6 linked regions of the Homo sapiens genome follow. The protein of the gene in region 1 interacts with the protein of each later gene in a pairwise test. Each region holds a gene or a part of one and is shown in the gene's direction. Other genes may lie near its edges.

Evidence for each region.
Region 2: the proteins of ENTREP1 (region 1) and RNF216 interact in a two-hybrid assay, tested with the Homo sapiens proteins (one large-scale study listed by IntAct).
Region 3: the proteins of ENTREP1 (region 1) and MYO6 interact in a two-hybrid assay, tested with the Homo sapiens proteins (one large-scale study listed by IntAct).
Region 4: the proteins of ENTREP1 (region 1) and RNF168 interact in a two-hybrid assay, tested with the Homo sapiens proteins (one large-scale study listed by IntAct).
Region 5: the proteins of ENTREP1 (region 1) and SPRTN interact in a two-hybrid assay, tested with the Homo sapiens proteins (one large-scale study listed by IntAct).
Region 6: the proteins of ENTREP1 (region 1) and GRIPAP1 interact in a two-hybrid assay, tested with the Homo sapiens proteins (one large-scale study listed by IntAct).

Annotation. Positions count from the first base shown.
Region 1 is NC_000009.12:69,328,204-69,331,737, forward strand, and holds part of ENTREP1 (endosomal transmembrane epsin interactor 1), read left to right. Parts: intron 1-1,121; exon of another isoform or gene 1,122-1,496; intron 1,497-3,534. UniProt on the Homo sapiens protein: Functions as an activator of the E3 ubiquitin protein ligase ITCH in the ubiquitination of the CXCL12-activated CXCR4 receptor. Thereby, triggers CXCR4 endocytosis and desensitization, negatively regulating the CXCL12/CXCR4 signaling pathway.
Region 2 is NC_000007.14:5,736,638-5,740,171, reverse strand, and holds part of RNF216 (E3 ubiquitin-protein ligase RNF216), read left to right. Parts: intron 1-819; coding exon 820-896; intron 897-3,534.
Region 3 is NC_000006.12:75,881,739-75,885,238, forward strand, and holds part of MYO6 (unconventional myosin-VI), read left to right. Parts: coding exon 1-80; intron 81-3,500. UniProt on the Homo sapiens protein: Myosins are actin-based motor molecules with ATPase activity. Unconventional myosins serve in intracellular movements. Myosin 6 is a reverse-direction motor protein that moves towards the minus-end of actin filaments.
Region 4 is NC_000003.12:196,493,769-196,497,302, reverse strand, and holds part of RNF168 (E3 ubiquitin-protein ligase RNF168), read left to right. Parts: intron 1-831; exon of another isoform or gene 832-1,089; intron 1,090-3,534. UniProt on the Homo sapiens protein: E3 ubiquitin-protein ligase required for accumulation of repair proteins to sites of DNA damage. Acts with UBE2N/UBC13 to amplify the RNF8-dependent histone ubiquitination.
Region 5 is NC_000001.11:231,348,275-231,351,808, forward strand, and holds part of SPRTN (DNA-dependent metalloprotease SPRTN), read left to right. Parts: intron 1-3,029; coding exon 3,030-3,297; coding exon of another isoform or gene 3,298-3,332; exon of another isoform or gene 3,333-3,534. UniProt on the Homo sapiens protein: DNA-dependent metalloendopeptidase that mediates the proteolytic cleavage of covalent DNA-protein cross-links (DPCs) during DNA synthesis, thereby playing a key role in maintaining genomic integrity.
Region 6 is NC_000023.11:48,981,765-48,985,298, reverse strand, and holds part of GRIPAP1 (GRIP1-associated protein 1), read left to right. Parts: coding exon 1-31; intron 32-1,428; coding exon 1,429-1,524; intron 1,525-1,858; coding exon 1,859-2,071; intron 2,072-2,206; coding exon 2,207-2,320; intron 2,321-3,426; coding exon 3,427-3,504; intron 3,505-3,534. UniProt on the Homo sapiens protein: Regulates the endosomal recycling back to the neuronal plasma membrane, possibly by connecting early and late recycling endosomal domains and promoting segregation of recycling endosomes from early endosomal membranes.

The DNA of each region.
Region 1 (3,534 bases):
AGCAGGGTGGGAATTAGATCCTTCGTGCTCCCTAGTCCATTTGTGAGATTAAATTCTCTTATTGTTTGGAAGCAAATCTCAGGTGTCACATTTCATCTGTATATATTCCAATGTGTGTATTTTTATCACAAGAAAATATAACCAGCATAGGATTGAGTGGGCAGTCCGAAGAACCATTCCCTTCAATTTTAAATCTTTTATTATAAAAATTTAAAAACTCAACAAATGTAGAAAGAAGGGTGTAATGATCCCGCATTTTACCCTTCACCCAGTAGCTATCAACACATGGCCACTTTATACCTAACGCTGCTCCCCCTTCCTAACACCCCTGGATTATTTTAAGGCAAATTCCAGGTATCACAACTTCAGCCATTAGTATTTTAGTATGTACTTATAAAAGAAATGGGCTTGATAGGACATTGTAACTAATTCAAAGACAGCTAAACTAAGGTTTCTATAAAAAAAAAAGTTGGAAGATTATGAGTTGAGAACTGCAGAATTAAAAAAGAACACAGCTTTGACATATATTCACATGCCATACAACTTACCCATTTAGCATTTAAAGTGTACTGGTCAATGGTTTTTAGTAAATTCACAGTTGTGCAACTATCACCACAATTTTAGAAAATGTTTATCAACCCTAAAGTTTTGAGTAGTTACTCCTCATTCTCCACCACCCCCACCCCTAGCCACCCACTGATTAACCCACTTTCAGTCTCTGTAGATATGTCTGTTCTGGATATTTCATATACAAGGGATCATATAATATGTGGTCTTTTATGATTGGTTTCTTTCACTTAGCATGTTTTCAAGCTTCATCCATGCTGCGGCAAGTCTCAGTACTTCATTCCTATTTTATTGTATGGATATGCCATGTTTATTTATTCACTCACAAGTTTTATTGGCATATGAAGCTAGGTAGTTGAATGGAAGTGCCAACTTATGTCTAAGGTTACTTCAAACCCACATAGGAACACAGTAGAAGAATATCCTCATATTTCAAGCTTTGACCATTAGGATCTTTAGCCTGCTATATCAACTGAACCCACACATCTTCTTTAGGCTTCACTGAAAATTTTGCTTGTGTATTTGATACAAAATTAGGTTCAAGAGACAAATATATTTATTTGAAATGACTATTTGTTGAACACAGTATAGTTCAAGGATATTTTTTCATATGTATTTCCTTAAGAGAGCCCTGAGCCTGAGATTTTGGAGGCTTCTTTCACTTGTTTGAACTTTGAAGGTATATTTTATCTATTTTAAAAAACACTTAAGAATTAACAAATTCTATAAAGCATCTTTTTTCATAGTTTTCATTCATACTTTCAGCAACTTGAAGGGAGAGTTTTTAACGTAGTCTGTGTTTTTGAGCACTCTGAGCATTTGATTTCTTCCTGGTATCACCGGTAAATCACTCAATATATTATTATTCCCAAAATTCGTGAAGCTAAGAGATGAGCCATCTTGAAAAACAACCTGGCATTTGACTGGAGGTGAGTGGCTAAGGGAGGATCTCAGTGTCTGTCTTCAGCTGTGCTGTCCTAGCTCTCGGTTTGGGGGGTGCGTTTAGTGTTAACTAGATTCCACTGGGGTGTGGGAGTTAACGAGATTCCACTGGGGTATGGGCGTTAATGTTAACTAGATTCCACTGGGGTATGGGAGTTAACTAGGTTCCACTGGGTTTAATTAGATTCCACTGGGGTATGGGAGTTAACTAGGTTCCACTGGGTTTAATTAGATTCCACTGGGGTATGGGAGTTAATGTTAACTAGATTCCACTGGGGTATGGGAGTTAACTAGGTTCCACTGGGTTTAATTAGATTCCACTGGGGTATGGGAGTTAATGTTAACTAGATTCCACTGGGGTATGGGAGTTAACTAGGTTCCACTGGGTTTAATTAGATTCCACTGGGGTATGGGAGTTAATGTTAACTAGATTCCACTGGGTAAGGGAGTTAGCTAGGTTCCACTGGGGTTAAGTAGATTCCACTGGGGTATGGGAGACTCAGTCGGCCACACTGCACTAGATTTAATGAAAGAGGAGAGAGAGTTGCATTGGGTTGTCTCTCCTCCTTCAGAAACAAAATTCCTACCTTTGATGACATGCATGATCCTTGGGAGATATTTCAGATGAGTGGTAGAGAATTGGTTGTTGTTTTTTACTCCTCTCTGAGTGCCCTATTATTCTTTATCAGTTGTATACATCTATGTCTGTGCTTTAAGTCACTGATCTAAATTCATGATCATCCTTTGAGTCCATGATTCTTTGGCAAGGTTCTACTTTCACGTAAAGAGACAGACATTGGTGAACTTTAGGGTGAACCTTTGTAAAAAAAATCGCAGTGAATAAACATAAAGAAAAATCAATGGACTAAACGAAAAACTAACATAAAGATTATGGTTACTACCAGTTAAATGATAGTAAATATTTTTTATCATACTAATCAAATACTACTTTAATATTTAAGGGATATTTAAACTATAATTTTGGGGATGAGTTTTATTGATTTCTTTGGTCCTTTATTTTGCATATCAGCAGAGTCACCTTTATAAGTTCTGTGCCTCTTGGCCTCAGTTACTCATCTGTCAAATGGGTGGGATGCTTCTTCTTCTTCAGTGCTGATTTTGTCAGGGTGTAGCTAGAGTATACATAGGAGAGTGCATCACTGCTGGACCCAAGCACCAGACCTGGAATACACGGGAACCTGTATCAATGGTTTTTAAATACCGAGGTAATAGTTAATCAAAGTAAAATGAACAGGCCAGTATTTTTGTAGGACATTATAGTTACCATCATGTTTTCATTAGAAATATTCAGTTGCCCACTTTCTCAATTTGTTTTTTTTAATGAGCTGTGCTAGACAGATAGGGAAGAAATACACACACATACACACACATTTTTTAAAAAGTTGCCATTGTAAGAGCTATAGGGCAGGGTAGGTTGTTGAGAAGTTTGACATATTATTTTCTGCTTATTTACAAAGTAACACAGGACATTTACAACATGGCTTTTTAAAAATCTCTGTGTTTACATACAGCAGCTTTTGATAAATGATTCAGAACATTTTTGCCCTAATACAAGTTAATGGATTAGCAAAGGGAAATAGGGCAGTAGAATTATAAGCTTCTGATCTTAACGATTTGGTTTTTACGTTGGAAAATGAAAGCACATTAACCATTTATGGTGGGTAACAATGACTCTTCCCTGGGGTATCTCAGAGCCCTTCTTTGCAGTCTCAGAAAAAAGGAAAGCCCTCTGCTTTTTCCTGTAAGCTACAAGAAATAGGTTATCAGTGAGTGAAACAAAAATTGTAATACCTCTCATAATAATATAGAGATTGTTTGGTGTTAGAAAATAGGTTCTTACCTGTTCATTCAGGGCAAGTTTCATCTTGCGCTGGATGGAAAGAATGCTGATGGAGTTGCTTTTTGTTGCTGCTGTACTCTTTTAGGAAGCACAGGGGATGAAAAGTGTGTTTAGTCTTACATAGTCATCTTTGAGCAATGTCATCTCCTGTTTCTGGCCTCCAT
Region 2 (3,534 bases), on another chromosome or scaffold:
CTGGGCGACAGAGTGAGACTCTATCTCACAAAAAAAAAAAAAAAAAAAAAAAAAAAAAAAAAAAAAAGGTGTTACATCTGGTAGCCACTATTTGCCTTCAAACAAGTCCGTTAACCCTACTTTACCCAGGCGGGTTTTTTTTGTTTTGTTTTTGGTTTGTTTTTTTTTTGAGACCGAGTCTCACTCTGTCACCCAGGCTGGGGTACAGTGGTGCGATCTCAGCTCACTGCAACCTCCGCCTCCTGGGTTCAAGCGATTCTTCTGTCTCTGCCTCCCGAGTAGCTGGGATCACAGGCACATACCACCACGTCTGGCTAATTTTTGTATTTTTTTAGTAGAGACGGGGTTTCACCATGTTGGCCAGGCTGGTTTTGAACTCCTGACCTCAGGTGATCCGCCTGCCTCGACCTCCCAAAGTGCTTCGATTATAGGCATGAGCCACTGCACCCGGCCACCCAGGTGTTTTTATCTAGGCACTAGGTTGTGTGCTGCTTGAGGGCTGGCATGAGATTGTAACTTATTTGTGTTTGGATTCCCTTTGTCTAGACAGAGATGCTCAATATTTGTTGAAGCAATGAAGAATGGATCTGTAAAATGGGGACAGAGAACCAGATCTCTCAAGACCTTTCTAGACCTCATCTTCTATGTAGACAGATGAATCTGGGAACTAGTGTTGAATTTGAAGACACACACAGACCTGCTTCACAGCCCTTTTCTAGTCTTTAGTCATTTTATTATACTTTTTGCCATCTGTCTTGTATTGCCATTTGAAACCATTCTAGTGAATGAAATATAAATTATGTTCTTATTTGTTTCTAGGAAGCAAGATTTCCAGATGTAGCAAATGGGTTTATTGAGGAAATAATTCATTTTAAGAATTATTATGATCTGAATGTGTAAGTATACTACCATGCTTTTTTTGTGGTGGTGGTGGTGGTGGTAAAATATATGTAATAAAAAATTTACCATTTTAATCATTTTTAAATATACAATTTGGTGTTGTTAAGTAAATTCACATTATTATGCAACTATCACCACCATCCATCTTCAGAACTCTTTCATCTTCTCAAACTGAAACTCTGTCCGCATTAAACACTCACTCCCCATCCCCTTCCCAAGCCAGTGGCACCCACCATCCTACTTTCTTTCTATATGGATTTGGCTACTATCAGGGACCTCATGTGTTTGTTCTTTTCTGACTGGCTTATTTCACTTGGCATTATGTCTTTTTTAATGACCTTGTTCGTTCTGACATTAGTGATACACAGACTGTTTTCTGGATTTTATGGAATACTGCATGGTTATAGAATTATGATAACTGAGTTGTTTCTAAGCGTTGATACTACCTGTGTTTTAGTCAAGATGTTAAGACATTTTCTTCCCTACGATTGTAACAAAATGTTCTGCAACCACTCTGTTTGGAGAAATACATGGAAGCATTTTTTTTTTTTTTTTTTTTTTTTTGAGACGGAGTCTCACTCTGTCTCCCAGACTGGAGTCCAGTGGTGCGATCTCGGCTCACTGCAAGCTCCGCCTCCCAGGTTCAGGCCATTCTCCTGCCTCAGCCTCCCGAGTAGCTGGGACTACAGGCGCCTGCCAGCACGCCTGGCTAATTTTGTGTATTTTTAGTAGAGATGGGGTTTCACCATGTTAGCCAGGATGGTCTCGATCTCCTGACCTCGTGATCCACCCGCCTCGGCCTCCCAAAGTGCTGGGATTACAGGTGTGAGCCACCGCTCCCAGCCATATTTCTTAATTTTCATTATAAAAGGGATAAATACGGGCCAGACATATGGTTCACACCTTTAATTCTGGCACTTTGGGAGGCTGAGGCAAGAGGATTGCCTGAGTCCAGGAATTCAAGGCTGCAGTGAGCTGTGTTACGCTACTGCACTCCAGCCTGGGAGCCAGAGTGGGACCTTGTCTCTTATTTTAAAAAAATTTTTTATAAGTGGTAAATATGCTTTTTTAAAAAATAAGTTTTCCTGAAGAATATAAAATGAAAAATATACTCTTTCCCCTCCTTCTAATCTGCAGAGGTGAAATAATTGTAATTTTTTTTTTTTTTTTTTTTTTTTTTTTTTGGAGACAGTCTTATTCTGTTGCCCAGGCTAGAGTGCAGTGGTGCGATCTTGGCTTAAACAGCAGTCTCCACCTCCCAGGTTCAAGCAGTTCTCCTGCTCAGTCTCCTGAGTAGCTGGCATTACAGGCGTACTCCACCCTGTCCGGCTAATTTTTGTATTTTTAGTAGAGACAGGGTTTCATCATGTTGGTCAGGCTGGTCTTGAAACCCTGACCTCATGATCTGCTCACCTCCACCTCTCAAAGTGCTGGGATTACAGCCATAAGCCACCGTGCTCAGCCTGGTGGTAAATTTAAACAAAATAGTTCACTAAACACCTTTCCCCAAAGTTCCTATCTTATACTGTAGTTCTCAGTCAAGGTTGCAGGTGAGTTTCTTCCCTGCCAAGGCTGAGAAGGAAGGGCCCCTTTCCAGGTGCTTAGCCCAATGTAGGTACTTTTTTCTAATTTGTACAATGACACTGTTGGAGCCATTAGTGGCCTTGTCTGATCCCACCTCTGTACAGAGGCAACCACTGTCATCAGATTTATATTTATTTATTTATTATTATTATTATTATTATTATTTTTAATTGATCATTCTTGGTTGTTTCTCGCAGAGGGGGATTAGGCAGGGTCACAGGACAATAGTGGAGGGAAGGTCAGCAGATAAACAAGTGAACAAAGGTCTCTGGTTTTCCTAGGCAGAGGACCCTGGGGTCTTCCGCAGTGTTTGTGTCCCTGGGTACTTGAGATTAGGGAGTGGTGATGACTCTTAACAAGCATGCTGCCTTCAAGCATGTGTTTAACACAGCACATCTTGCACCGCCCTTATTCCATTTAACCCTGAGTGGACACAGCACATGTTTCAGAGAGCACTGGGTTGGGGGTAAGGTAATAGATCAACAGCATCCCAAGGCGGAAGAATTTTTCTTAGTACAGAACAAAATGGAGTCTCCTATGTCTACTTCTTTCTACACAGACACAGCAACAATCTGATTTCTCTATCTTTTCCCCACATTTCCCCCTTTTCTATTCGACACAGCTGTCATCGTCATCATGGCCCGTTCTCAATAAGCTGTTGGGAACACCTCCCAGACGGGGTGGCGGCCGGGCAGAGGGGCTCCTCACTTCCCAGAAGGGGCAGCCGGGCAGAGGTGCTCCCCACCTCCCGGACGGGGCGGCTGCCGGGCGGAGGGGCTCCTCACTTCCCGGACGGGGCGGCTGCCGGGCGGAGGGGCTCCTCACTTCTCAGATGGGGTGGCTGCGGGGCGGAGGGGCTCCTCACTTCTCAGACGGGGCGGCCGGGCAGAGACGCTGCTCACCTCCCAGATGGGGTCGCAGCCTGGCAGAGGCGCTCCTCACATCCCAGATGGGGCGGCGGGGCAGAGGCGCTCCCCACGTCTCAGATGATGGGTGGCCCGGCAGAGACGCTCCTCACTTCCTAGAAGGGATGGTGGCCGGGAAGAGGCG
Region 3 (3,500 bases), on another chromosome or scaffold:
GTTGGTTAAAAGAGTCAATCACTGGCTCACATGCAGTCGCTGGAAGAAAGTTCAGTGGTGCTCACTCTCAGTCATCAAATGTAGGTGTTTTCCTTTACACCTATAGGATCTTTCATTGTTTCAAGATGGTTTGTGGAGTGTTGTAAAGCTGTCTCAGAGGTGATGCTGAGCAACAGAGACTGAGACTTGTTCACACTGGGTCCCAGGTTCCTATTTGTAGATGTTCTTTCTTTTTTTATTTTTTGAGTGTATGATATTTATTTTCTTTATTCAAATGTGTTATAAGAGTGTCAGTTTCATAGTGTCCTAACAAAACAGAATTCACTATCTTGATCTCTCGTCCCCGCACCCCTCACCATCCCCTAATCTCTCAGACTTAAACCAGAACTTTTCTTTCTGCCTGCATGGCATCTACAATACACATACCCCGAAAATTCTAATTGTAATTGATTTTCCTTTCTTATCCCTGAAATATTGTCAGTCACCAGATCCTGTTGATTCCTTCTCCAAATACTGTACATTCCTTTCTTTTTCTTGCCAGTGCCTTAGTGAAGTCCTTTTCCACCTTTTGCATAATAATTCCATTAGCTCCCAGACTGGTTTTCCTGGTTTCTTAGAGATATCTCTCTAAACTAGAAGCCTTTTATAACTTTCCTTTCATAAAAGGTGAAGTCTAAATTATTTGATGTCTTTCAAGATCATGTAAAATGGTGTGTCAGTTTTTTGTTTCAGTCTCTTCCCCCACCATCCCCTCTTAAATCCTGTTTTTTGAACGGAAGTCTGTCATAATCCTGAAAGACACTGTCTTGAACACCATAATCCCAAATGTTGAAATCTTAAAAGATGAAAGTCCCAAAACTAGGATTCTGTAAAAATAATAAAAAAAGATATTTATTTACATTTTAAAAAGGGGATTTGAGAAACGTATAAAAACATGACAGAACTCTTCATAGGCCACTTTTCACAATAAAATAGGCAATAACATATATATAGGCAATAAACATATATGTTTATTGAAACTATAAACACATATACTAACAATAGTTGCATGGGTATAACAGGAGCAGACAAACCGTATTCATAAAGAATAGGGCGAAAGGTGAAATGCATAAACACATATTATTGTGGTTGGTAATTGTGCACCCAGCTTTGTTACTGCAGTCATCTGAAATACTGTGATGATGAACAAGCTGTCTTTTGATGAGATCAGTCAAAAACCATAGTGAGTCACCACTGCATTTGTAGTTGCCCAGAGAACTGAAATCTTGAGAAATTTTATCTTTTACAAGTGCAGATGTATGATAAAGGACATCTGTTCATTGATTAAGTTTCAGTGTTTTTATATACATACACAATGTTTACCCAGAAAGTAAATGTTGTGGTAATGCATTTTCATGGAGTTAAATTTGCAAAAAATGAATACAGTAAATTAGAACTCTCCAAAAATTTCTACATAATTAAAAAATGCTAACAATTTAAGATAGTGAAAATAAAAACAAAGAAAAAAAAAACACCCAAAACTAAAAAGGAAGTTTGACATAAAAAAAAGTGTATCACAGGGACAGATTATAGGCAGTTGCATGGAGATAGTCCATAGAGCTGGCTGTCTTTCTCAGTCATTAACTATATTTTGAAGTCTTGTACCACGAATAATAGGTGCTTTTTTTCTTTTAGGACATGGTTCTTGGAGAATATGTTCATATTCATTTTCTTCATGAGATTGCTCTTTTTGGAATTCTTCTGTGATTCCTCTGATTGGGATTTTTAGGATTTTTGATGTTAGGGATTTTAATCTAGGAATTTTGATCTTTTGGGATTTCAACATTTGGGATTATGGCTTTTGGGATTAGGAATTCAAACCCCTTTGACATACTGGGCTAAGCTGCTTTTATGTGTGGTTTGGCCAGGTCATAGCAGCTACATAGCTGGCCCAAGACAAAAGTGAGGGACAGAACATTTTGGGGTTACCTAAGGATCTGTGGCAAACCTTTAATTGTTGGGAGCTGTGTAGGAATCAGTAACTTGATTACATTTACAGTTGCCCCTTATACTCATCAGAGTACCTGAAATAGTGCTAGGTACATGAAAAGGATCCAGCGAATTTTTCCTTATCAGTAGAAAAGGAAAATTCTTTTGGCCTAATGAAAAAGAATCATGCTAACAAAGATTATTTTTGAGGTATTTTGTTAGACAATTGTGAATATAGATAAAAAGAGAACTATTAATATAAAAAGAAAAAAGATAGCAGAATCTTTTCCCCATCATTTTCCAAATAAAATACAGAAACATCTTTATTACTGTAGTTTAATACGTTCAGCTTTACACATTGCATTATGATAGGAAACACATTATAGTAAACTCATCTGTTACACCATTCATTTGTGGACTGTGTTCTACAGTGGTACCGAAGTCAGTAACCGGGCAGGGATCTTTGCAGAATGTTAATAGGAAACTCTGAAAAAAAAGTTCAAGGTCAGATCATCCTAGGAAATTGTGAGTAACTGAAGTTAAGTAGATTTCTTTGCTGTAGGATTCTCAGAGGCTTCACTCAGTATGTTCATTGTGAACCTCCATACAGAAGTATAGTGTACAGCTTTTCATAAACTCATTTGACAGGTAAATCCTTTTTTCAGGACATACCTATTCACATTTCATAGAACAAATGTTGCCTAAGACAGTTTGGGAGGTAGCAGTGTAGCATACTAAGGAAATAATGCATTTAAAATGTAAGCCTAACCAGATACATGATATTGTAACTGCCCAGTGGGTTCTCCTTGCCCACTACCCAGACAGAGCTGATTTATCAAGATAGGAATTGCAGTAGAGAGACAGTAATTAATGTAGAGTCGGCTGTACGGGACACTGGAGTTTTATGATTACTCAAATCAGTCTCTCTGAAAACTCGGAGATCTGAATTTTTAAGGATAATTTGGTAGGTAGGGGCTTGGGTTGGAGATGAAATCATAGGGGGTCAAAATTGAGTTTTTCTTGCTTGCTTCTGTTCCTGTGTGGGAGCACAGAACTGGCTGGGCCGGATTACCTATCTAGGTGGCATCAGCTGGTGCATTGGAAGGTCTGCAAAATATCTGGAGCACTGATTTTAGGTGTTACAACTGTGATGTTATACCTGGGAGCAATTTGAGGAGGTTCAGATTCATGCAGCTGGAGGCTGTGTGGCTCCTAAACCGTAATTTCTAATCTTGGAGCTAATTTGTTAGTCCTACAAAGGCTGACTGGTTCCCCAGGCAAGAAGGGGGTTTATTTTGGGAAAGGGTTATTATCATGTTTGTTTCAAAGTTAAACTTTAATAAACTAAGTTCTTTCCCAAGATTAGTTCGGCCTACACCCAGGAATGAACAAGGACAGCTTAGAGGTTAGAAGCAAGATGGAGTTGGTTAGGTCAGATCTCTTTTACATAATTTCCTTGGTTGTAATTTTTGCAAAGGCAAAATTACATCTTTCAACATCTTTTTATTTTTAAGAAGAATAAGAAATTATAG
Region 4 (3,534 bases), on another chromosome or scaffold:
CCATATGGGTATCAGTTATTTCTGTACCTTTTGTTGAAAAGACTTTTTAAAAAAAATAATGTGGGTCTATTCTATTTCATTGATCCGTTGATTCTAATATTAGTGTCACACTGTCTTGATTACTGTGACTTTAGAGTAAATCTTTTTTTTTCTTTTTGAGACAGAGTCTTGCTCTGTTGCCTAGGCTGGAGTGCAGTGGCGTGATCTCAGCTCACTACATCCTCTGCCTCCCAGGTTCAAGCAGTTCTCCTTCCTCAGCCTCCTGAGTAGCTGCGATTACAGGCATGTACCACCATGCCTGGCTAATTTTTGTATTTTTAATAGAGACGGGAGTTTCACCACATTGGCCAGGCTGGTCTCGAACTCTTGACCTCAGATGATACTCCTGCCTCGACCTTCCAAAGTGCTGGGATTACAGGCGTGAGCCATCGTGCCCGTCCTCCGTATATTTATTCTTTGTATGTAGAGACGGGGTTTTGCTATGCTGCCCAGGCTGGTCTTGAACAGCTCACCTCAAGCAGTCCTCCCGTCTCAGCCTCCTGAAGTGCTGGAATTACAGGCCTGAACCGCCACACCCAGCCTATTTAAATTTTTCAATCAACTTACCAGTTTCTACTAACAGCCTGTTAGGAGTTTGATTGGGGTTGCATTGAACTTAATAGAACAATTTGGGGAGAATTGACATCCAAACAGCAACAGAGTCCTTGTATCCATGAAAATAGTATATTTCTCTGTTTGTGTAGGTCACCTTCAATTTTTTTCAGTAATGAAGTTAAAATAAGGTCATTAGAATGGGCCCTAATCCATTATGACTGGTTTCCTTATAAAAAGGAGAAATTTGGACACAGAGACAGACACGCACAGAAGGAAGATGATGTAAAGACACAGAGTACCACGTGAGGCTGGAGGACTGGAGTGATGTATTTACAACCCAAGGAACGTCTAAGGTTATCAGCATACTGTCAGAAGCAAGGAAGAGGCAAGGAAGGATCCCCTACAAGTTTGAAAAGTGTCATGGCCCTGCTGACACATTTATTTTGGACTTTTAGCCAGAACTGTGAGAAAATAAATTGCTGTATTTTCAAGTCACGCAATTTGTGGTACTTTTCTATGGTGGCCCTAAGAAACTAATATTTATCCCTAATTATATTATGGCTTTTGAGACTGTTTTAAGTAAATTTTAAAAAATTTTCAGTATTGTTCATTGATAATTTATAAAAATATAATTGGTGTTTCTGTGTTAACTTTGTTAACACATAATACATAAAGTGAATCTACTCATTTACTTTATGTATTTTTAATTTATGGAAGGAAGGTTGTAAGAAAGCACATATGAGATAGCTTTAAAAAATGAAGTATTTGAAAGTGAATTAGTGTGACGGAGACAGGTGTGTTTTACATTTGGATTTCTCAAAAAAGAATCCTATAGTAGGGAAGAATCAGCCTTAGAATGTCTAAATTTCCTTTCTGTTTGCGACTGTCACTGTAAAAATTGATGCAGGCAAGAATTACAAACGGATGCCAAAATCCCTGCTTGAAAATTTGCCGGAGAACGGAGGACTCATATAGTCTGAAAATATCATCTTACAGATTGCTTATTAATTACAAAGGGTGAAGGATACAGTCGAGAAGCCTGTTACCACAGTAATGAAGTGATCACAGTTAACGTTATCCATGGAACAAACAAACATTGCGGTCCTCCTGATAGGACGAGTATAAGGCATAACCTGAATCTAACTGTGAGAAAACAAAAACCCAAATTGAAATTCTACAAAACGTAGTTGTTAGTACCTCAAAAATGTCAGTGTCATGAAGGCAAAGCCTTAGGAATCATTCTAGTTGAAAGGGAGATTAAAAGAGAATGACAGCTAAATGCAGTGCATGACCCTGGATTAGAACATGGATTAGGACAAAGGTTGTTATTAAAGACATGGGGATAGTTGGTGAAATTTTTATCATTGATATGATGGGTAATATATCAATGTTAATTTTCTTGAACTTGATCATTGTATATCAAATCAAGAGATAAGGACAGCATCTCTTATGAGGTGGACACGTAAGGATTTGGTGAAGGGTTATGATCATGCAACTTTCAAATGGTTCAGAAAATACACACACACACACACGAAAGGCAATGTGGCAGTTTAAAAACTTCATGAATCTAAATGCAGGTTAAACGGGGGTTTATCATACTATTTTTGCAATTTCTGTAGATTTGAAAATTTTCAAAATAAATATTGAGGCAGAAAGTGCAAATTTAGTTTATGTTATTTTATTTTCGAGACAGGGTCTCACTTAGTCGCCCAGGCTGGAATGCCAGGGAGCGATCTTGGCTCACTGTACCCTCCACCGCCCGGGCTCAAGCAATCCTCCCACCTCAACCTCCTGAGTAGCTGGGACCACAGGCACACACCACTACGCCAGGCTAATTTTTTTATTTTTTGTAGAGATAGGGTCTCACTATGTTACCGAGGCTGGTCTTGAACTCCTGAGCTCAAGTGATACTCCTGCCTCATCCTCGCAAAGTGCTGGGATCACAGGTGTGAGCACTTTGCCCCTGATTGCCATTTATAGCCACACTACTTGGTGATGATCCAGCCACACTGATGTACATACTGCTTCACAAATCATATGCTTATTTTCCAGAGCAACTTTGGGCTTTTTATTTTTTAACTATCTCTTTATTTTGTACCCTGTGCCCAGCCCAGGAATGCACATTTAATTGGGAGAAGGAAACTGCCATTTACATGGAGCTGCAGTCTAGTTCAGTGATGGGAGGGCAGTTTTATGAACAGCTCAACTGTTCAAGTTAAGGCTTATTATTTATTTTTATTTTTCATCCAGTATTATACATTCAGGTCTTTAACTAACTTGAATTTTTCCTTCAAAATAAAATAAAAAGCATGGGGACATATTTCCTTAAATGAGTCCTGGCCGCCTAGGAAGACCACTTGCTGCGAAGAAGCAAAATATCGAGTAGAGTAGGAATGTTTAACCGAAGTGGGTTTCAGCAGAAATTTTAGAGTTAACCAGAACTGAAGAGTGTCGAGAGTTGTTTCCAACAGATGGCAAAAATTGTATAGTCACTTTAAGACTATAAAACTGAGATATTCAAATTTCTTATAAAATTAGAGTTGTTTAAGAAATAGCAAACAGGCCAGGTGCGGGGGCTCACACCTGTAATCTCAGTACTTGAGAGTTCAAGGCAGGCAAATCGCTTGAGCCTGAGAGTGTGAGACCAGCCTGGCCAATAGGGCAAAACCGTCTACAAAAAATACAAAAATTAGCCGGGTGTGGTGGTGGGCGCCTGTAGTCTCAGCTACATGGGAGGCTCAGGCAGTAGCATTGCTTGAGCCTGGGAGGTGGACACTGCAGTGAGCTGAGATTGCACCACTGCACTGCAGCCTGAGTGACAAAGTGAGACTCTGTCTCAAAAAAAAAAAAAAATAAATTTAAAAAAAGAAAGAAATAGCAAATGGAAGGCTGGGCACGGTGGCTCACACCTGTAATCCTGGCACTTTGGAAGGCAGGTGG
Region 5 (3,534 bases), on another chromosome or scaffold:
CCCTCATCAGAATTCTTCTTTGATTCATATCTCTGTATAGCATTGTAGGAGATAGCAAAGCCTCAGGTTCAAAAAGCTGGAGGCGTCAGGCTGCTTGGATTCAAATCCTGGCTCCACCAATTATTAACTTTCCTATGCCTCATTTTATACCCATGGCAAATGAGAGTAGTAACAATACCTATCTGTTGGATCCTTGTGAGGAGAAAGGATTAAAGGAGAAAGCACATCAAAACATTTTAGCCCAATCTGACACTAATTAAATATTAGTTTTATTGTATTCATTTTATTAAATAACCTTGTTCCTTTTTTACTGCCTCCAACTCTGCTGCCTGTGTCCTGTCTCTTTAACTGCACTTTTGACCTCCCTGCCTTTCCTCAGGTGTAGCTTCCCTGAGGCGTGCCACTGCTCTGTTTTGTGTCCGAATGCTTTTCATCGTTCCAGTGGCATCTCATTTCTCCCTCTTTTGAATCCTCAGCAGATATTTAAGCTATTACAATTTTTTATGCTACTTTCATACTTTTGAACGCAGGGTAGGTCTTGCCCATCTTTATAGTACATCTGTATAAGGTGTATAATGTACTGAATTGAATATTAATAGGATAGATTAAATTCTTTCTTATGTTTGGGTATTTCCTTCCTTTAAAAGGCAACAAAATCCACTGTGATAGAAAATGAACAGTGCTCAACCGCCATGTTTTGTTTATTTATTTATTTAAGATAGGGTCTTGCTCTGTTGCCCAGGCTGGATGCAGTGGTGCATTCATAGCCCACTGCAGATTCAACCTCCTGGGCTTAAGTGATCCTCCCACCTCAGCCTCCTGAGTAGCTGGGGCTACAGATGTGTGCCACCATGTCAAGCTAATTTAAAAAAAAATTTTTTTTTTTAGAGACAGGGTCTCACCATGTTGCCCAGGCTGGTCTTGAACTCATGGGTTCAAGTGATCCTCCCATCTCAGCCTCCCAAAGTGGTGGGATTATAGACATGAGCTACCATGCCTGGCCTCTCCATGTATTACTATTTTCTAGCTATCAGTTTTAATTTTCTAAAGACTTCATTTCATTATTAGACACAGTTACTTCAACATTAGGAAAGTGTCTTGCAGTTTTTAAAAAAATCAGACATAAAATCCGGGTTAGCAAGAGAATTATAGACTTGCTTGTATAAAATACATTAAGTTTCTTAACCAGAACTTATACTTTAAGCAAAGCCCTTGTATACGTCCCATTGTTCAGCTGGAAGAGTATCTGTTCTTTTATCTTAGATATCTGTGTGTTTTTATTTAGGAGAGGTTGTAAGGAGTGAACACTCCTTGCTTTTACAGGTTACATCCTGTTATAAGGAACTCTGCAGGGTATCTACATTGTAGAGTAATTTTATTTTAGTGACTACATTGTTAAAAGTCACATTCCCAAGCGTTAGGAGTTACAGGAATTGGAAGCAGAACAGATCCAGGCTGGGTGTGGTGGCTCACGCCTGTAATCCCAGCACTTTGGGAGGCCGAAGTGGGAGGGTAACTTGAGCCCAGGTGTTTGAGATCAGCCTGGGCAATTTAGTGAGACCTTGTTTCCACAAAAAAAATTCAAAAATTAGCTAATCGTGGTAGCTCACGCCTGTATTCGCGGCTACTCGAGAGGCAGAGGTGGAAGGATCACTTGAGCCTGGGAGGCGGAGGTTGCAGTGAGCCAGGTTCATGCCACCTCACTCCAGCCTGGGCAAACAGAGCAAGTCCATGTCACAGAACAAACAAACAAAACAGATCCATTTGTCTCTCTTTTTGGGTAATGAATTAAGAGTTCTGAACATAATAGAGTGCGTGGTTTCCCGTGCTTCTTTGCCTTAAAACCTATGTCCTTCAGTCCCTTCTGCATTTAATATAATGTGCATTCTTTGCATGCTTACCAAGTAGAAATTTTTTGCTTAGGATGGAGCGATAGTGAGTTTAAAACTATCTATAGAGTTATAGAAAGCTTAGCATTCTTTCCCACAAGGGGAATTTATTAGAAAGCTAAATGTCTTTGGTAAAACACCAAAATCTTACATACAGATGCTTCTCACTCTTACACAGAGAGTTCCACTGAGAAGGCAGAAGAATAAGGTGCCCATAGTCATTTAGGAGTCATTTCAAATGGTGCTCTATAGTCTTCAGTGCCACCATGCTGGGAGGGCTGACCCTCTTTTCAGTCAGGTCTTTTCCCTTACCTGTTTTCTGCTTGGGTTCCAAATAGGATTTTTGTCTAGAGGGTGAAAAAGAAGGCATCCTACTTAAGGCCTGAAAAGCACACTTCAGAGAATTTTATTTGACTCAATGAATGATGCTTTTCTGACTGAGCACCTTCTTGGTGCCAAAAGCACTATATTAGCCACTAGGGACACAAAAAATTAAAACATTCAGATCCTGGAGAACTTTTCAGTCTGGTAATAGAAATATTTATAAACAGATAAAATGGTACCTCATAAGGCTTATTACAGAGACATAAGCACAGAACTTGGAGAATGTGGAGAGTGAGCTTAGCAGAAGCTTCACTGGGTAAGATACTTGTGTTGTTAGCGTCAGTCAGGCATTTATAGGGAGTAATGTAGTCCTTTAGAACCCTTTGCTATTTTTACTTATAGGGAAAACTTCAATTTAGCAGTGGGAATGATTCTTATTTTAGTATGGTATTACATAAAATCTTATCTTTATCCTAATTTTTGATCATTTACAAATTTGATTTCTGAAACTTTTAGTGTTCATGAAGATTTTCTGTGGTTTTGTTTTTAAAAGATTTTTTTGTCCTCTAATCCCATGTGCATCTATCTTTACACAGTTTATGAAGTATTAACTGCTGCTGTTTCCCATTAAAATCAACTTTTGAACAGAAACTAAATATAGTTGCTTTCTCTCCTAAAATAGAACTTTTCAGAAAGCTCTGGGAAAGTTTCAAAAATTAAAAAAAAAAAAAAAAAAAAAAAAGACTGCTTATGTAAATTGTTTTCTTGCAGTTGTTAACTTGCTTATTGAATACTAAAAATTCTGTCTCCACTCAGGTATACCATACTTTTCACGATGAGGTGGATGAGTATCGGCGACACTGGTGGCGCTGCAATGGGCCGTGCCAGCACAGGCCACCGTATTACGGCTATGTCAAACGAGCTACTAACAGGGAACCCTCTGCTCATGACTATTGGTGGGCTGAGCACCAGAAAACCTGTGGAGGCACTTACATAAAAATCAAGGAACCAGAGAATTACTCAAAAAAAGGCAAAGGAAAGGCAAAACTAGGAAAGGAACCAGTATTGGCCGCAGAGAATAAAGGTACCTTCGTGTATATTCTTCTGATTTTTATGTGACCATAGCTATGATGTAAAGACAATACTGTCCTTCAGAGAACTGGTATTAAGATAAACTTAAGGATCGTTTCTGGTGTAGAAGTCTTCAAGTGTAGACTTAAGGAAAAAATCCCACTGTCCATGAAATGATGGTAGGAAAACAGACTTTGCTCTGTACAGAAGTAAGTAAAAGTAGGAATAGTTTCCATGGATATTTTTATTT
Region 6 (3,534 bases), on another chromosome or scaffold:
ACAGAAAGATGACCTCAACTCCCAGCTCCAGGTAACACCTTTGGCTCTGGCCTGTCTCTTCCTAGTTCCCTAGTAATGGCCCAGTGAAGTCCCCAGTAAGGTGGAGTGGGAAGACTGGAGTCAGGAGGACCTAGGTTCCAGTCTGGCTCCCTAACTTATTAGCACCTGTGTGTTCTGGGACAAGTCATTTCACTTCTCTGAAACTGAGCCTCTTCAGTTAGTTAGGATATCAATTCTTTTTCATTTTTTAAATTTTAATTTAATTTAATTTTTTTTTGAGATGGAGTCTTGCTCTGTCACCTAGTCTGGAGTGCAGTGGCGTGATCTCGGCTCACTGCAAGCTCCGCCTCCCGTGTTCTCGCCATTCTCCTGCCTCAGCCTCCCGAGTAGCTGGGACTATAGGCGCCTGCCACCATGCCCAGCTAATTTTTTGTATTTTTAGTAGAGACGGGGTTTCACCGTGTTAACCAGGATGGTTTCGATCTCCTGACCTCGTGATCTGCCCGCCTCGGCCTCCCGAAGTGCTGGTATTACAGGCGTGAGCCACCACGCCCGGCTCCTTTTTTTTTTTTTTTTTTTTTTTTGAGATGGAGTCTCACTCTGTTGCCCAGGCTGGAGTGCAGTAGCGCGATCTCAGCTCACTGCAACCTCCGCCTCCTGGGTTCAAGCGATTCTCCTGCCTCAGCCTCCGGAGTAGCTGGGATTACAGGCGCCTGGCACCACGCCCAGCTAATTTTGTATTTTTAGTAGAGACGGGGTTTTACCATGTTGGTCAGGCTTCTCAAACTCCTGACCTCAGGAGATCTACCCGGCTCAGCCTCCCAAGCAATATCCATTCTGATTCCATAATAGAAACCAGAATAATAGTAGATTAAATAAGATACAAATTTAGTTCCCTCTCATTAAAAGTCCAGGTAGGTTATTCAGGGATGGAATGATGGCTTTCCAGTCATCTGTGACCCAGGTTCTTTCTCCATTGCTGTTCCTCCACCTTCAACACAAGACTTTTATCTTGGCATCCAAGACGGTTGCTGAAACTCCCCGACCATCATGTTTGTATTCTATCTGGAAGGAAGGAGGAAAGGGGCAGGGAAGAGTGTGCCCCTTTCCTTTAAGAGCATAACCTAAATTACACTCACCACTTCCACATACAGAAATAAATCACATGGCCACACCTAACCATAAGGGAGGAGGGGAAACATCTGCTAGACAGCTGTATGCCCGATGATAAATTTTATTGCTAGGGAAGTAAGGAAGAATGAATACTGGGGAGCAACTAGCAGTCTCTGCTATATTTCCTATCCAGAAATTGAGATCACAATACCAACTTTACCAGGGAGAAGGGAGATGGTCTACCAGATGGTCCTGGGTGACTAGCACCTACTGGATGCTCTTTATCAAACTCTTTCCCTTTGGTGTCTGCATTAGGAGTCATTACGGGCCAATAGTCGACTGCTGGAACAACTTCAAGAAATAGGGCAGGAGAAGGAGCAGTTGACCCAGGAATTACAGGAGGCTCGGAAGGTAGGGGAACATGAGGGTTGAAGGGAGAGGATGGGGGGTAGGAATTGGCTCAGTCCATGGGGATGGGAGGAGGTGATATAACCAAACATGTGGGGATAGGAGGGAAAGGAAAATTGACTGGTTTCTGGTTGACCAGTTTCTTGGCCAAATCCATGAGAGTGGGAGGGGAAAGAAAGAAAGTGACCAGTTCTATAAGGATGGGTGAGTGCCTTAGCCAGTTCAGTGGGGATGGGAGGGAGTGGAGTTTGGCTAGTTCCTTGGGCATGGGAAGAGGGTTGGAGGCCTTTTTTCGATGTTGTGGAAGGAAGTTGACTGCCATCGTCCTGGCCCCCAGAGTGCGGAGAAGCGGAAGGCCATGCTGGATGAGCTAGCAATGGAAACGCTGCAAGAGAAGTCCCAGCACAAGGAAGAGCTGGGAGCAGTTCGTCTACGGCATGAGAAGGAGGTGCTGGGGGTGCGTGCCCGCTATGAGCGTGAGCTCCGAGAGCTGCATGAAGACAAGAAGCGTCAGGAGGAGGAGCTCCGTGGGCAGATCCGGGAGGAGAAGGTGGGTGGGTAGATGATGATGCCCTTCTTCCTCTAAAACCTGGGAACCACAGCGTTGCTGATAGGCCAGTGGGTGGCATGCATCAGGTGCCCGCTCCTCTGCCTTCCTGGCCCATGACAGTCTGCCCCATCCCAGGCCCGGACACGGGAGCTGGAGACTCTCCAGCAGACAGTGGAAGAACTTCAAGCTCAGGTACATTCCATGGATGGAGCCAAGGGCTGGTTTGAACGGCGCTTGAAGGAAGCCGAGGTGAGTTGGTGATGCCTGGTGAGGAACAGAGGCTGATTGGGGCCCTCATGTCAAACCACAGAAGCAGGAGTGGTCAGGCCCTGGAACTTCCCGAGATTTTCTGGACTTAGGGATATCCCCACAGTCCCCTGGCTCAATAGCAGCCCTCTGGAGTGGATCAGGGGATGGCCATCAGATAGGACAGACTGTCACGTGTTAAGGCTGCCCTGCCTTTGTGCAAATTTGGAAAGGCACCTCTTTCTCCTGAAACTGTACTTCTGTCAGGAAATTAATGCAATACACTGATGTTATTGAACAAGAACCTGCTGGGTGCGGTGGCTCACGCCTGTAATCTCAGCACTTTGGAAGGCCGAGGTGGGCGGATCACTTGAGGTCAGGAGTTCAAGACCAGCCTGGCCAACATGGTGAAACCCTGTCTCTACTAAAAATACAAAAATTAGCCGGGCATGGTGGCTGGCGCCTGTAATTCCAGCTACTCAGGAGGCTGAGGCAGAAGAATCACTTGAACCCAGGAGGCAGAGGTCGCAGTGAGCTGATATCGTGTACTGTACTCCAGCCTGGGTGACGGAGTGAGACTCTGTCTCGGAAAAAGAACCTTTGTTGCCATTTTCTGGAAATCTCATAATACACTGAAAGGCATTGTCATGTAGCAGTGAAGAGCACAGGCTGGAGCCAGTTGTTTGTCTAGGTTTGAATCCTGGCTGGGCCATTTCCTAGCTGTGTGACCTTGGGCAAGTTATCTGACCTCTCTGTGGCCTGTTTTCATCAATGGTAAAAAGGGGGTAACAATAATATCTACCATCTAGGTATTACGGGAGGATTATAGAAAATGAGTTAATATATGTAAAACCCTTAGAACATTCTTGGCATGTAGTAAGCGCTATGTTTTGTTAAATAAAATAAAATGTAAATGCAAATCTAAGTCAACCATGCGAATGGTGCAACTTTAGATGTGACACTTCAGCATATTGCCTAAGGGCGTGTGGGGTTCCCTGCAGGAGGGTCATTTCTGCATACCTCTGGGCCCCCATTGCAGTCCCTCATACCCCTAACTGGGCATGATACCTTCTGGGGGGCTGTGGCCAGACCTGGGACTTGTCTTGTAGGAATCCCTGCAGCAGCAGCAGCAGGAACAAGAGGAAGCCCTCAAGCAGTGTCGGGAGCAGCACGCTGCCGAGCTGAAGGTGCCTCTCGCATGATGGTGTTCCTCTCTC